Linked DNA regions of Homo sapiens: region 1 is linked to region 2. A link means that fine-mapping ties the variant in region 2 to the expression of a gene that starts in the linked region. Tissue or cell type: whole blood. Region 2 holds a variant in brackets; the other region holds the start of a gene. All regions are shown on one strand. Distances are between the middles of the regions.

Evidence for each region. PIP is the estimated chance that this variant, and not a neighbour inherited with it, causes the effect.
Region 1: ING1 starts here. The variant in region 2 is fine-mapped to the expression of ING1 in whole blood (INTERVAL, PIP 0.96).

The regions. Positions count from the first base shown.
Region 1 is chr13:110,710,283-110,718,461 of GRCh38, forward strand. ING1 (inhibitor of growth family member 1) reads left to right here and starts at 3,418. Exons shown (of 2, transcript NM_198219.3): 1 at 3,418-4,003. The coding sequence starts at 3,868. It also overlaps a transcript of CARS2 not described here. RefSeq lists enhancers at 1,845-1,934, 2,535-2,584, 5,225-5,394, 5,572-6,265, 6,135-6,224 and silencers at 2,075-2,414, 2,088-2,256, 3,255-3,604, 3,615-3,804, 3,965-4,254 and 4 more.
Region 2 is chr13:110,678,798-110,686,976 of GRCh38, forward strand. It overlaps CARS2 (cysteinyl-tRNA synthetase 2, mitochondrial), which reads right to left. Exons shown (of 15, transcript NM_024537.4): 6 at 4,254-4,337. Among named protein-coding and RNA genes, the nearest start is that of CARS2, 23 kb to the right of the region's middle. The variant C/A (reference allele first, on the strand shown) is at 4,585.

The DNA.
Region 1 (8,179 bases), 31 kb after region 2:
GAGGCAGGAGAATCGCTTGAACCCGGGAGGCGGAGGTTGCAGTGAGCTGAGATCACGCCACTGCACTCCAGTCTGGGTGACAAGAGCAAGACTCCGTCTCAAAAAAAGAAAAAGAATTATATGTTCATCTCTTATATCTGACTCTCATAGGTTTGAGCATTTTCAGTTAGACTGGAAATATAATTTTAGAAAAAAGTTTAATTTTAAATGTTTCTTTTTAATCCATTTGAAATTTCTGTTCTACGGAAAAGTTTTAACATCCATTTTTGCAACACGCCACAGGAAACAAAACTGAAAGAGACAAGATTCTTCAACGTATCTTCAAAATTAAGCACCTTTCTTCAATGACATTTAAAATTCGTTATCAAAGGTAATTATGTTTTATTGCTTGATCTTCTAAGTTTGTTCCAAAAAAGATAAAATCTTTTTTGACTTTTTATCCCAAGGGGTGGGCTAAAAGTTTTATGGAATGTAAAGCTCCAAAAAACTTTTCACTACTGTATCCCCAGCGCACGGACCAGTAGTTGGCACATGGTAGACACTCGTCAATATTCCTTGTTGAATGCTTAAGATGCCTTTTTGGTTTATGTGTATGTGAAGAGAGTACATAACTAGAGGAACAAAATCATTACTCAGATTGTACTGTGTTGTGATTTTTTTTTTTAAAAAGAAAACCTAGGTTAAACTCCATCTTATCTTTGTAAAGGGTAAATTACTTCCAATTTTATTCTTGAGTTCAGATAAACACTATTCATTCTAGAGCCAATGAATGCTAGGAATAGAAGAACCGGTCTATTTCTTACTATTGTACTTTTAAATTACTTATATGCTTTTTGAGGGAAAGGCGTAATTTTCCTTATTCAACTTTGTACTCCCTCTATACTCTGTATTCGACATAATGTTTGTTTCCACATAATGTTATCTTGTCGTAGTCTTTTTTTCTCTTTTTTTCCGGAGATAGTCTTGCTCTGTCGCCCAGGCTGGAGTGCAGTGGCACAATCTCGGCTCACTGCAACCTCCCCTCCTAGGTTCAAGTGATTCTGTCTCAGCCTCCCCAATAGCTGGGACTACAGGCACGCGCCACCATGCCCTGCTAATTTTTTGTATTTTTAGTAGAGACAGGGTTTCACCATGTTGCCCAAGCTGGTCCCGAACTCCTGATCTCAGGCAATTCGCCCGCCTCGGCCTCCCAAAGTGGTAGGATTACAGGCGTGAGCCACCGCGTCCGGCCAAGTGTTATAGTCTTTTGTGCAGACCAAGTAGTGGCCAATAAATCTTGTAGAAACTAAAGTACTCATTTGCTTTTAACTAGGCCAAGACTAGAATAGCGTGATCTGTAAGTAAAATAACAGCCATTTCCCCAAATATCAAAGCCAAAGCTCTCCTGCTGTGTAGGTGAGATGAAGGGGCTTAAAAGTGAAGATTAAATCCACTTCAAAGTGTAAAGAGTATCCATCCATTTATCATTGCAGCAACGTTGCAACGTGAACAATCCGATTCCAAATACAAAACAGCTTAATTCAGTCTCTTTGCCGTACTCACATCCATAGCACAAAATACCCGGCAGGGCCCTGGAATGAGCACCACTGCGGTTAATAATCTACTCTATAAATACTGGACGAATCCAAATTTTTACTGGATTACACAGAATACGTTTTTAAAAAATCCAAAGAGTTTTAGATGTTACAACAGGGTTCCATCAAATACCACGTTTCCAAATCTTACCACCAGAATGTGTATCCATTTCAACTGCAATTATTTTGTGTCTAAAACTGTGTACTCTGCTTTGCAACAGGATAAACCCGGTGGATAAAAGCTGAAATCCGACCCTGTCCTAATTAAGAGGCTAAGAAAAATGGAGAACCGCGCTGGCGTGGAGTTGATACAGAAACACTGCAAGGGCTGGGGACAGGGCTTAGTTCGTGGAATACACAGGCAGCACCACCAACCCGGCTCTCCGGAAAAGAGAAAGTCCAGTGAGAAAGGTGAAAACTGACAAGGCACCGTTCTCCGACTTGCTGAAAAAAAGACAATGCAAATAGAGCAGGGTCCAAGGCGGAAGAAAATCAGAGAAAAGCAGGCAGCCAAGCGTGGCGAACACAGCTCTCGGGGCCACCCCGGAGGGGACCCGCGGCGGCCGCAGCGGGGCGGAGGCCGAAGCCGAGGCCGCCCCGGAACCAGAGAGCCAGGCGGGAAGTGCACAAAGGCACGAGGCCACGCCCAGGAGGGGCGGGCCCTTTGGCCGGAAGGGGGGGGGCCGGCGCGCGGGGCCGGTCGCCTAGGCAACGGGCTCGCGTGGCGTCCAGGCTTCTCAGAAAGCCCAAAATCCGGGAGCTTTGGGAGGGTAGAGGGGCGACGCGGGGGAGGGCGGTCCGGGGAGCTGAATGGCCTCAGGACGCCGGCCGACCGGGTGTCTGCATACTGTGGGCGGCCTTTCCAAGTGTGGGGAGCGGCCTCCGAGAACGGTGTCCATGACACAGGGCGGGAAGAGATAAGGCCTAGGGAAGGCGCCCCTCGGGCCTATCCACCTCTTCTGGGGCTCGGCACTAGGAAGCAGCTTCCCTCTCAGGCCCCTTTGTCTCCAAGCCGTTCCAAACTGAGTACCGGGAGACGACACAAAGGGAGGGCGGTGACGGATGGCGCAGGCGCGGGAGCCGCCTAGGCTGCTGGGAGTGGTGGTCCGGCCGCGGAATGGGTAGGTCTCCCGCGCACTCTGCGGCCGCAGCTCAAAGGACACCGAGAGGGTGCCAGTGCGCATGCGCCGCCACTTCCGCCCGTGCCCGGCCCTCCCCTTCCTTCCGCCTCCCGGAGGACTTGGGTTTCTAGTAGTAAGAGTCCGGGGGGCATTACTCACGGTCTCCCCGCCTCCTCTTCATCGTGATTGGGCTGTCAAAGTGATGTTGGCAAGTAGATTGGCTACTGCGGTTGCCAGTTCTGTTTCGGGCCCTACTTATACTGCTCTGTGGGGCGGGGACGAAGAGTCAGGGGCTGAGGAGCGAGTTGCGGTAGTTGCTGTGTACCATGGTCTCGGAGGTTTCTGTCCCGCGGCCCGTTAGGTCCTGGTCGGGTTTTCAGCGAAGCAGGCCGCTCCCCTGCGTTTCCCAGCGGGCGTGCTGTGCCGCCCAACAGGCTCTGCCTCCAAGTGCCAAAAACTCCTAGTAAAGTTTGCGCCTCGCCCGCCGTCCACACCCCAGCGGCCCTGACGCTGTCCCCTCCGCGACCCTCGCCTCTGGAAAAAGTGACAGGCAAGGCCACGCCCCCGCGAGGGCCGGCCTGGAGCCCGCAGCCCCCAGGGCCTGGGACGGTGAGGGGCGTGAATGCGGCGGGGGGCGGGGCCGTTGCCGGGGGAGGGGGCCGGGGCGCATGCGCGCTGCGCAGCGGGGCTGAATGTTTCCCAAGTGTTTGAAACTGGTATTTGGGTTTTCCACGTTGGACAAGTGCGGCTCGGCGGCCAGCGGAGCGCGCCCCTTCCCGCTGCCCGCTCCGCTCCTCTCTTCTACCCAGCCCAGTGGGCGAGTGGGCAGCGGCGGCCGCGGCGCTGGGCCCTCTCCCGCCGGTGTGTGCGCGCTCGTACGCGCGGCCCCCGGCGCCAGCCCCGCCGCCTGAGAGGGGGCCTGCGCCGCCGGCCGGGGCGTGCGCCCGGGAGCCACCGCCACCGCGGCCCGCGCCCTCAGGCGCTGGGGTCCCCGCGGACCCGGAGGCGGCGGACGGGCTCGGCAGATGTAGCCGCCGGGCCGAAGCAGGAGCCGGCGGGGGGGCGCCGGGAGAGCGAGGGCTTTGCATTTTGCAGTGCTATTTTTTGAGGGGGGCGGGGGGTGGAGGAAGCGGAAAGCCGCGCCGAGTCGCCGGGGACCTCCGGGGTGAACCATGTTGAGTCCTGCCAACGGGGAGCAGCTCCACCTGGTGAACTATGTGGAGGACTACCTGGACTCCATCGAGTCCCTGCCTTTCGACTTGCAGAGAAATGTCTCGCTGATGCGGGAGATCGACGCGAAATACCAAGGTACGGCCGGGTGATGGATGGGCGGGGGCGGCCGCCTCCTTCCCGGCGGGTCCGGGCGCGCCGCGGAGCCGGGCCGGTCCTGCCGTGGACCGGAGGAAGCGGCCGGCTCCGCAGCGGCGGCCCTCGGCAGGGGCAGGAACAAAAGGTCTGGAGCGCCTTTGATTCGCCAAGGTCCTTGTGTGCAAAGCCCGGGACACGGAGGAGGAAGGAGGCGCGAGAGGTCTCGCTGCAAGGCTGCGCGACCAAAGCGCTCTTTGTAGTGAAGTGATGAGGCGGGTGCTGCGGGGGAGGGGGCGGCGGGTCCAAGCCGCGTCCTCTAGGAGGGGGTGCAGATTACGGCGCGAGATGGAGGGATGTGCCGGCGCCTGGGGCTATAGGGCGCCGAGACGGGGCTGCAGGAGGAGGGCGGCTGTGGGCCGGGGTTCCCGCGGACCCGGTGCCTCGGTCCCGGGCAACGCCGTTCCTCTGGCCCTTCTTCGTCGCCCCCCACTCAGTCCCGAATCTGAGTGTTACATAAAGTACCGGGTAGTACTCCGCTCGGGGTAGGTCGGCCGCCCCCGCCCAGCCCCCTCCGGCCCTCACTTGGAGCTGGACACCGAGTAGGGGCCGACTGCGAGGGGCGACGCCGCCGGTTGTAGTTTGCGGAGGACGAGGGCTTTTCTCTGTGTGCCGTAGGGAAGGGAAGGGAAGGGGAGGAGCGGAGGCGGGGAAGGCGCCCATCTGCGCTGCGCTCGGGGGGGCGCGGGCAGATCGCTGGCTTGGAGAGGACTGTGGCAGGTGAGAGGACCTGTGCGTCGTTCTCTGCAGACCTGGCCGCCCCGGGTGTCAGAGAGAGGTGGCGAGTTCGTGTCCGCCGGGAATTGTTGGCTGTTGGGGAAACTTTCCTGCGAGGTCAGTCAAGGCTTTGGGGGCTCTGTTTTGAATGTGGATCACCACTCGGAGTTTACTAATGTTTACAAGGCTGCGCAGTAGGGAAACGGAAGAGTTGGGTGGGGGCAAAAAAAAAAATTGACCGCTATCCCCGAAAGTACTAGACGCCTCTGCCGGGAAGGCGCCCCTGCGCGTTCTATCCGAGACGTAGCTTCGCAGCGAATTTTATAGGAACTTCATTAGCATATTATGGAACGTCCCGCCTCAGCCCCCCAGTAGTTGGCTGTGATGTCCTTCGTGGAATGTCCTTATCATTCCCCTGCGGAACGATTGGTCGCTGAGGCGGATGAAGGCGGGCCTAGCGCAATAACTGGTATGGGTCTGTGTTTCCGCTGTCTTCTTTTTTCTTTTTCGGGGAGGAGCGGGGTGGAGGGTGGACGAGTTGATTTGAACGTCTTCGGGTCGCTCGGCCTCCAGCCTTGGATTGGTTCTTCTCGCTGCTGGGGCGGGCCGTGCTCTTCCGCCCTGCGGTGTGGTTGGTTCTCCTCCTGGCCTCCGCCCTCCAAATCGGCGATTCCCATAGGCGGCGGCTCTCGGGGTGCGGGGCGAGTCTCCCGCTGGCCTCCTCCCCATTGGCTGGAGGCCTGGCGGGTGTCGCCCCGGCCCCTCTCCCCGCTCAGCCCGGCCACTTTCGGGCGCGGATTTATAGCAGTAGCAGTGATCCCGGGCCTGTGGGCTCGGGGCCGGGGCTGCAGTTCGGACCGCCTCCCGCGACCCGCGGGGCCGGCTCGGAGACAGTTTCAGGCCGCATCTCTGCTGACCCGAGGGTGGGGCCGCGCGTGGCCGTGGAAACGTGAGTGACTGGGGCTGCGTCCACGAGGGGGACCCTCGGCGCAGAAACTTTTCTGGAAGGTGCTGTCCTCGGGCCGGACGGGCCCCGTGGGGTGACCCTGGGGCTCCGGACGGAAGGAAGGCAGGGGCTGAGACCACTTTGATCGTTCGACGATAGAAAAAAGTAGCGCGGGGCGGGGTGCAGGGTTCCAGCTGTCCAGACAGCAAAGTTCATGGAGCCACTTTGTCCTCCTGTCGTTGCTGGGGAGAGCCTGGCTTGCTGCTTGCTTCATGTTCACCTAGGGTGATGAACTTTTTGGCTTCAGGAAAGATCACAGTCCTGCCCCCCCGGGAGTACTGGAGCGGCGCAGCTGGGAGCGCCGAGAAGCGAGCGAATCTGTCGCAAGGGTCACAGCTCCTTGGACTTCGGTGTAAATGCTGAGCTCTGCCGCGTAGTTCTGAAAGACTTCCACAGACCTACTCTGTAGGAAGTCAAACGTCTTTTGCTTAGTAGGCATCAGTTGTATGTTAATTCATAAACTTGGATTATAATTAGTTTGTCGATTTAAAATGGTGTTTGAGGTTGCTTGAATTATTTTTCAAACATTATCATAAAAATACCCACCCACCCCCTGGGAAGTTCGCTTCATAAAGAACTTCAGTGCAACCCGTATGTAAAATTAAAATACATTTAAAATAATTGGACAAACCAATTTAAATGTTGCTACAACCCCATTTAATCTGTAAATTGCATGTGCTGCTGCTTTCCATGGTAATGTTGGTGTGGAATATGTTTGGAAAAAAGGCAGTAGTGTCTGAAGCTGAGTTGCTGGCATTGAAAAAGCAGAGTGTCTGGAAGGATGGCTTCCTATTTAGCAGTGGTGTTGTTCCTGTTTATAAATATTTGTACTTAGTGGCTTTGTTGATAAAATACTTTGCTTGGAGTATCAAAGAAATATTAGGTAACAGAAATACTTCTTGGTAATTTTGCGATGGGATATCTGTTTCTCTTGCCCACAAATTAGGCTTCACCTGGATGGAAGCTTGCTTGTGATGTAAAATAACTTCTGTGTTATTAAATTTTAAATTTATATGATACAGTTTTCTGTGAAATGACAATATTGTCTTTAGAACTTTGATTACTGATGAAAAGAAGTGATACCATTTTGTAACCCTAAATCCATTTAAAAATAAATGGTACACATATTTTAACATTATGATAAATAAGTTGAATAAATTGGTATTACTTGGATACGTTGAACACAGCTATTTATTTTTATAATTAATTACTATATGAGACTAGGGCTTTCCTCCTGGTGGCAGGCAGCCTGCATTGTTCCTCTAGGAGTCTTCAAAGCTGTCTTTAGTTTGAGAATATACTCTGGAAAATATTACCATTTAGAGAAGCTTCAGCGTTGGCCTGAGTTCTTATGTTTACTCTAGTGTTAGGTATATGTCTTATAACTATTTGGAGATAAGATCTGGAAAGGAAGGGGGTAACATTTTAGACAATCCCTCCCACTCTCAGCCCCTCCCCTAGTTTACAAGTAGTATTGTTGGCCAGGCACGGTGGCTCACTCCTGTAATCCCAGCACCATGGGAGACCGAGGCGGGCGGATCACCTGAGGTCGAGAGTTGGGAGACCAGCCTGTCCAACATGGAGACACCCTGTCTCTACTGAAAATACAGAATTAGCCGGGCGTGGTATTACATGCCTGTAATCCCAGCTACTCGGGAGGCTGAGGCAGGAGAATCGCTTGAACCTGGGAGGCAGGTTGCAGTGAGCTGAGATCGCGCCATTGCACTCCAGCCTGGGCAACAAGAGTGAAACTCCGTTTCAACAACAACAAAAAAAGGTAGTATTGTTGCCTTGTTTAAAGAGACTGCAAAAAGGTTTTAGGAGAATAATCTGGTACTGTTTAATTTAATGGTTACTGTTTGAGGAAAAAGAACTCTGGAATTTCTGTGTATTTAAGTAGCCTTTTTAGCAAGGCTGTTTACTTCAACTAGATTTTTTAATAGCTTTTGTTTCTTGAGAAATTGCCTAATTACACTTGCCAAATTACACTTTAAAATCATATACACTGTCCTCTAACATGCCCAGGAAGGTTTACATTTAAATACTGAAGAGGTTTTCTTTTGTTTTTGATAACATTTTAAAGTCCATTGACTTTAACAGATGTGAAGATGTTTTTGTTTAAGCAGTAGATGCAAAAGTAAAACCTACCAGCTTCGCTTTAAAGCAAGGCTAGTGCATTCACTGCAGTTAAAAAATAATAATAATAGCCCATCACAGTGGTGCTTCTGTAGTCCCAGCTACTCAGGAGGCTGAGGTGGGAGGGTCCCTTGAACCTGGGAGGTCGAGGCTGCAGTGAGCCGAGATTGCACCACTGCACTCCAGCCTGGGCGACAGAGACGGACCTTGTCTCCAAAATAATAACAAGTCGTAATAATAATAAAGCAAAGCTAGGTTTT
Region 2 (8,179 bases):
TTCAAAAACAACAGGGAAAAAGCGGACCTGGAGACGGTGGGAGGGGGGAAGAGTGGACGGGGCTACAGAAGGCAGCGCAGGCGGAGGCTGGGCACTCCAACATATGGACACGCGGGGCGGGGAGGAGGCACGTGCATGGGAACCTTCTAACCGTGGTCAAGCCTCGGGCAGGGCTGGTCCGTGATGGACTAAAGCAGGTGGATGCCCACTGGTCATCCGGTCACGCCCGTTGTCCTTACCACACATGTGAACAGACAGAGGGGTTAATGAAACCCCGTGGCCCTGAATTTGAGTATCAGTGTGACCTACGGAGCAGATGCGTTCATTACCTCAGTCTATGGGAGAGGCCAGGAAACAATGACAGACGGCAATGACAGATGGCAACAATGAGTATCCATGGTGCCCATGCTGTGTTCTCAAAACACCATTTCCCATTAAAAGTAAAATGGGAGCTGGGCGCGGTGGCTCACACCTAGAATCCCAGCACTTTGGGAGGCCGAGGCGGGCGGATCACCTGAGGTCAGGAGTTCGAGACCAGCCTGACCAATATGACGAAACCTCGTCTCTACTAAAAATACAAAAATCAGCCGGGTGTGGTGGCAGGTGCCTGTAATCCCAGCTACTGTGGAGGCTGAGGCAGGAGAATCGCTTGAGCTCGGGAGGCGGAGGTTACAGTGAGCCGAGATCGCGCCATTGCACTCCAGCCTGAACAACAAGAGTGACATTCTATCTCAAAAAAACAAAAGAAAAGAAAAGAAAGAAAGAAAGAAAGAGAGAGAAAGAAAGAAAGAAAGAAAGAAAGAGAGAGAGAGAGAGAGAGAGAGAGAGGGAGGGAGGGACACCGGGCGTGACCGGAGGGAGGGAGGGAGGGAGGGAGGGAGGGAGGGAAAGGGAAGAAAAGGGAAGAAAGAAAAGAGAAAAATGGGACTTCCAGGAGAAACAGCTTATTTTAAGATGAGCCAGGAATATCTTACCATATCAGATAGACAGCCACAAAACTATTAACTACAACAGGGCTGAGTGTAAGGGACTCGGGAGTAGCTGCTACCAGCAAAAGAGGGGGCACGCCGAGGCTCAATAAGGTGATGGCAGCAATGGGTTAAAACGGCATGTGCACTGAAGCCCACGAGCTCTCAGCAACGGAAGAACATGAACTGGTCACTGCCAGAGGAAAATATGGAAGCCAACTCCTTGTTCTGAAAACTGGTAAGTTAAGGAAAAGGTCCTGCCTTTCTTATACAAACTGTACCACTGAGTAACCAGATGACAGTCTGCCTGTATAAAAGTATTCCAGCAAATGGGCCAGGCACGGTGGCTCACACCGATAACCCCAGTACTTTGGGAGGCCGAGGGGGGGGGGGGGGGGGGTGGATCACCTGAGGTCAGGAGTTCAAGACCAGCCTGGCCAACACGGCAAAACCCCATCTCTACTAAAACTACAAAAATTAGCTGGGTGTGGTGGCATGCCCCTGTAATCCCAGCTACTCTGGAGGCTGAGGCAGGGAGAACTGCTTGAACCTGGGAGGTGGAGGTTGCAGTGAACCGAGATCATGCCACTGCACTCCAGCCTGGGCAAAAGAGTGAGATTCCGTCTCAAAAAACAAACAAACAAACAAACAAAAAAGGTATTCCAGCAAATAAAGCAGAATGGGAGTTGCACCACCATGCCACCTCTTTTTGCAGTGAAGGATCTAAGCCTAGAGCGGCCAGGGCTGCTGACACACAGAGGCAGAGCCCTTACGTGTCTCCTGGTGAGGAATACACCATCTACAAAGTAGCCTTCTCCAGAAATTTAGAACTGGATTAAGCCTCTACATTCAACTACCAGTTTGCAAAAAAACACACAGGACAGAGGGAAATGTTACAGACACTCCAAAACTCAGAGCAAGCGAAATCCCACTGGGGGAACCGTGAGACACATGACGTTTCTCCCTCAAATGAGCAGCAAGGGGAAGAAGCCAGGGGAGGAACATGTGGACTAAAAACAAGACACAAATATAGAACAGCTAAGGCTAAGTGTCGTGTTAAGGGACACGTGTTTGGGCAATAAACCCATTCAGAAAAATGAGGAGGTGGCCGCTGTCAGAGTTAGGGCAGTAGTTGCCCCCAGGGCAGGGCAGAGAGGCTGGCAGGCAGGGCCCGGGAGGTTATCGGCCAGGGCGTGGGACCCGGAGGACTCAGGTGCCTTCGCTCCCTTGCCATTGTTGTCTCCTTCCACTAGGGGGTGACCGCAGGGTCTCCACTGAACACAAATTCACTGAGCTGGGCATTTTTGTTTGTTTGGTAGAGACAGCAAGGGGTCTCACTACATTGCCCAGGCTGGTCTTGAACTCCTGGCCTCAAGTGATCCTCCAACCTTGGCCTCCTAAAGTGCTGGAATTACAGGTGTGAGCCACCATGCTCAACCAAGTTGGACATTTTTTAATGGTGTTTTCTATTGTTGTGTTATTACAACAATTTAAATTGAAAATTAAAAAGACAACACCATTGCTTTGGAAATAACATACACTAAGGCATTAAAATTTTTTTTCACCATATGTAAAAATGGTGGTTTTATTATCTTTGTTTTGTGTAATTCTATTTCCTAATTTTGTACCATTATAAATTATATAAATATGTTGCTTTTGTATAAGAAAATATTTTTTATTTTAAAAAGCACTGCTGTGAAGATGTGGAACGACAGGGACTTATTCCTCACTGGTGGGGATGCAAAATGGTGCAGCCACTCTGGCAGAAGCTGGGCAGTTTCTGACACAAATAAGCCTCTTCCCAGAGGACCCAGCATTGTGCTCCTTGGTATCTGCCCAAATGAGCTGAAAACCTGCACGTGGATGTTTACAGCAGCTTTATTCATAATTGCCAAAACTCAGAAGCAGCGAAGATGCCCTTCAGTAGGTGAGTGCTTAAGCTGCTGTAAATTCAGACACTGGGACGTGACTCAGTGTTAAAGAGAAACGAGCTCTCAGCCATGAAAAGACACGGAGGAAAATTACTGTGTATTCCTAAGTGAGAGAAGCCATTCTGAGAAGGGTGCACAGTGTATGACTCCAACTATATGACATTCTAGAAAAGGCAAAACTAGAGACTGTAGAAAGACCAGTGATTTCCAGGGATGGGAAAGAGGGAAGGATGAGCAGACAGACCACACAGGATTTTTCAGGGCAGTGCAAGTATCCTGCGTGATGCTGGAATGGTGGAAACATGTCGCTATACATTCACCCAAACCCAGAGCACACAGTGCCGAGAGTGAACCCTGATGCCAACTCTGGTCTCTGGGCAAAGCTGATGCGTCAATGGTGGGGGATGCTGACAGTGTGGGGGGCGGTGTGGAGGGTAGCAGGTAGACAGGAATTCTCTGTACCTTACTCTCAAATTTGCTATGAAGCTAAAATGGCTCTAAAAAGCAAATCTATTAAATAAATAATTTTAAAAAACCTTCCTGATGCCAGAATGTACAACTCTCAGAAACTTCTCCTCCACATGTGTAAGCAAAGCCCACACGGCCTGCTGGTAGCCACGCCTCACACGTGGCTGATGTGGGCGTCTGTGTTCCGGCCTGTGCGGGGAGCGGGACAGGGCACCACGGCGGGGGAAGGAAAGAACCTGAGGGGTCAGTGCTATGGATGGTTAGGATTCATTGGCACAGTTTATGGCGCAGAAAGACAGTGCCTAAAACCAGAAATACCTTGAACAGTCTTTGGGGTCTGTCCCTGTTATTCTTGTTTGATTCCCTTAGACAGTATCCTTTTCAAATTATTTTAAATTTAGTTCCATATACTGCGCTTACTATTTCTTCTCCATAAAAATGTTTTGACCTAATAACTCCCTGGAACAGAATAGAGCAAGGAAGAGATTCAAACAGATTGGAAGTTTAACACATAGTAAGACACGTATGGGAATTAAATGTACGGTAACACAGAAGAACGCGAAAATATGATGTACGTGTATGAGGTTTTCATGTGCGCTGAAAACCCTGGGGAGGAAAAAGGAGACAGTGACCAGCACTGTCTCCAGGGAATGGAGCCAGGCACGCTGGGGGCGGGGGTGGACGATGCCCCACTTGCCGTTTGAACTATATGCCTCACAAGCTGGAGCCATCCACAGAAACCACACTAAATTTAAAACACAGCTGTGACCTGGGTAAGGCCAGTGTCTGAGCAAGTGGAGGGGTCTGCGCTCCAGATCTCATCTCCCCAGAGCTGAGACCCGAGGCAGAGGTCAGGGACCCACAGGGCTGAGCCCGGCCAACCCACCTGGCTCTCCGACTGGACCAGGGACCACGCCGACCAATTTGCCATACTTGTCTCCTCTAGACTTCAGATCGAAGTAGACATTGCCTGTTTATAAAGACAATTATGAATTCATCACTTCTCAGTCTGAATATCAGCATATTGACAACCTTAACATCTAACAAGTAATTAGAATTTAAATACAGAACATAGCATTTGGCCCCATATACATATATAGTATTTATATTTTTATAGACAGGGTCTTGCTGTTGCTCAGGCTGGAGTGCAGTGGTACAATCACAGCTCACGATAGCCTTGAACTCCTTGGCTCAGGCAGTCTTCCCACCTCAACCTT[C/A]CCAGTAGGTGGGGCTATAGGAGTGACACCATGCCTGGCTTAATATATTTGTTAACCAGAATTAAAAACAATACTATAAGATAAATGCATGATTTGGACATATCATGAGTACACAGACGTGAAAGTGAAAACACAAATGTAAGTTCTCTGTAAACTACTGAGACAATTATTTAATCAGAAAAAAGAAAAGTGTTATCACTGACCTTCATTTAGATCTTGTGCCTTGTGTTACACAACAGCTAACAAAGACACTCTTTCTTTACTTTATGTTACACACCAGCTAGCAAAGACACTCTTTCTTTGCCCAGTCATCTTCTAAAACTACCTTTTTACTCAGATTGAAAACATCATCTGGCTGGGTGCAGTGGCTCACGCCTCCAATCCCAGCACTTTGGGAGTCCGAGGCAGGAGGATTGTTTGAGCTGAAGAGTTCGAGACCAGCCTGGGCAACATAGTGAGACCCCATCTCTACCAAAAAAAACACACAAAAAAATCATCTGCATATTGAAGTGTCTGTGAGGCTGAGTGCCAAGGTCCGCTTTGCAGTCTGAGGTCAGAACCTTCTCCAGAGCCTCCTGCAAGCCTGGGCTGCCCTTGCCCCTTCCACCACAAAGCCTAAGAAAGCAGAGCTGGGGAGGAGGCACTCAGAGTGGGAGCTTTGTCAAGAAGAAAGCACTACCAACCTATGCTCCAAGGCTGCCCGGCTGCAGCCGCTGTGTGTTCCAGGCCATGTGTCTCCCTAGGAAGGAGGCAATGCTCATCCGGGCTGTGACCATGGCCATTCTCAGTACCACAGATCCGCAGCCACCATCCAGCACCCTCCAACCACACAGCAGCATGTAGCTGTCCTCAGGCCCCAGGCGTGGGTGCAACTTTTAGCCTTTACAAAGTTTGAGTCTTCACATTCTTTTTTACTAATGCAGTTACTGATTTGCATCAGTACTGTCCTTACTGCGGACACTGGTGTTGGTAAGATCAAGGAAACTTTGCAACTGGCAAACACAAGCTGCACCCAGGACCTGCCTCATGTCCTCAGCCTGGATGTCCCCCTCCTGTCCTCTGGTTCATCCCCAGCACCGAGTGCCAGCTTAGTGGTCAACCCCGAATGACCAGGGAGGACGCTGAAGGGACAGGGCAGGGTTTTCTGTTGAAATGTCACCCGGCTTTGTTTGCCCAAGCCACACTGGCCTTTCCTCCCACCAGTGACCATTGTGCTCAGAAAACCCTGCCCTGTCCCTGCAGCGTCCTCTCTGGTCATTCAGGGTTGACCATTAAGCTGGCACTCGGTGCTGGGGATGAACCAGAGGACAGGAGGGGGACATCCAGGCCCTGGGAGCTGCTTTCTATGAAGTCAGAATATAAACAGTGCTTTAAAAGCGCTTCACTGGAGAGAAACCACTCCCTTAAATGGTGGAAACATTCCCCCTTCACTTTGCTTTATGTTATCAATTTGCTGAAGAAATTGTTTTTCACCAAGAGTTCAAAGATCAAATTACAACCAAGCCCTTGTGGAATTGTAACAAAGTCCAAATTACTGGGGTTTGATTGAATGTAAGTGTATTTTGAATTAATTATATTTATACTATCATTAAATTGTTTATAATAAAACACAGTAACAAAACAACAAACAGCATTCAATCCTCAAGCCTGTGAAGACGAGAATCCCTAAAGACTCGTGAACATTTATCACTTTATTCCTAAAATGGAAGCACAGGCCCACATATCTTATTTCAAGTTACACGACAGCAAAAAATTAATTCCTGTGTTTTCTGGTGCAAACTCTAATTCAACCACCTAAGTCCTTTAAAAAAAGTTTTTCCTGGGAGGCTGAGGCAGGAGAATTGCTTGAACCCGGGAGGCGGAGGTTGCTGTGAGCCAAGATTGTGCCACTGCACTCCAGCCTAGGCGACAGAGCAAGACTCTGTCTCAAAAAAAAAAAAAGTTTTTCTTTGAAACAAAATCTAAATATACCACATTAGAACAAGTAAAAAGCTACTTCCATACACAGAGCCTACTGAGCAGATCCTCAGGGCCTCACGTGCTCATCTTACGCTCCAAGTAGGACCCAGGAAGGACAGGAACGTCCAGGGCAGTGCTTCATGCTTTCTGACTCATTGCAACAAACATTCAATACCTACGTATCTTCAGCCGTCGGCTGGATACTTTAAGGCGTCATTCAGTAAAGCAAAAGGTTTTTATGGTCTGAGAATTTATGATCTAGATGGGGACAAAATATGAATACATTAAACAGCAAACTATGGCAGTGCAGAACTGGCTGCCAAATGGTACAGCAGAGATATCAAGGCTGAGAAAGTAAGTTCACTTTCAACTGTGCTGGGTGAAGGAGAACTTCATGGAGAGATGAGGCTGTGGTCAGGGTTTGCAGCCAGGATGGGTGGGATTTAGTTCGGATTTATGGCGATGCTTCATCACCAAAGCAGCAAAACAGCAAGACGCCAGCCTTGCCTGGGGTCCACCAGACAAAGATTAGCATCCGCAAACCAATGAAACCACCTGCAGTAAGCAACATGCAAATCTAAACACAGACTGCTCCACAGGAAAACTGACCTGTCAGAGTCTTGAATCTACATGTGCTTACCCAGAAAAAATGAAAAAAAAAAAAAAAGAGAAAAAAAGAAAAAAAGAAAGAGGAGGGGAAAAAGTGAGGAGACTAAACCAACAAATGCACACGCAGCACATGCCCTGGGGACAAGTGAGTATATTTAATACAGAGAGGACACGCGAAGCTAGCCAGAAATTCTTCATTGTCTGAGGTCTGACCATGACATCTGGACTCCTTTTATGCAGAGATGCATGTTGAAGTGTCATGGCTGATGCGACAGAACATCTGCAACTCACGCTTTTTTTTTTTTTTTTTGAGACAAGGTCTCGCTCTGTCTCCCAGGCTGGTGTGCAGTGGGACAATCATGGTTCACTGCAGCCTCGAATTTCCTGGGCTCAATCTATCCTCTCACCTCGGCCTCCTGAGTAGCTGAGACTACAGGAGCACGCCACCATGCCTAGCTAATTTTTATATTTTATTTTTGTAGAGAAGGGGTCTCTCCATGTTGCCCAGGCTGGTCCTGAACTCCTGGACTCAAGTGATCCACCTGCCTCTGCCTCCCAAAGTGCTGGGATTATAGGTATCAGCCACCACGCCCAGCCCTGCAACTCACTTTTTTATTTTTATTTTTTGAGACAGTCTGGCAATGTCACCCAGGCTGGAGTACAATGGTGTGATCTCGGCTCACTGCAAACTATGCCTCCTGGGTGCAAGCAATTCTCATGCCTCAGCCTCCAGAATAGCTGGGACCACAGGCGCGCGATACCAGGCCTGGCTGATTTTTTGTCATCTTAGTAGAAAGAAGGTTTTAACATGTTACCCAGGCTGGTCTCAAATTCTTGGCCTCAAGTGATCCACCCGCTTCCACCTCCCAAAGTACTGGGATTACAGGCATCAGCCACCATGCCTGGCCCTGCAACTTTTTGTTTTTTGTGCAGGGGAGGGTGGGTGGACGGAGTCTTGCTCTGTCACCAGGCTGGAGTGCAATGGTGTGATCTCGGCTCACTGCAACCTCTGACTCCCGCAACTCAC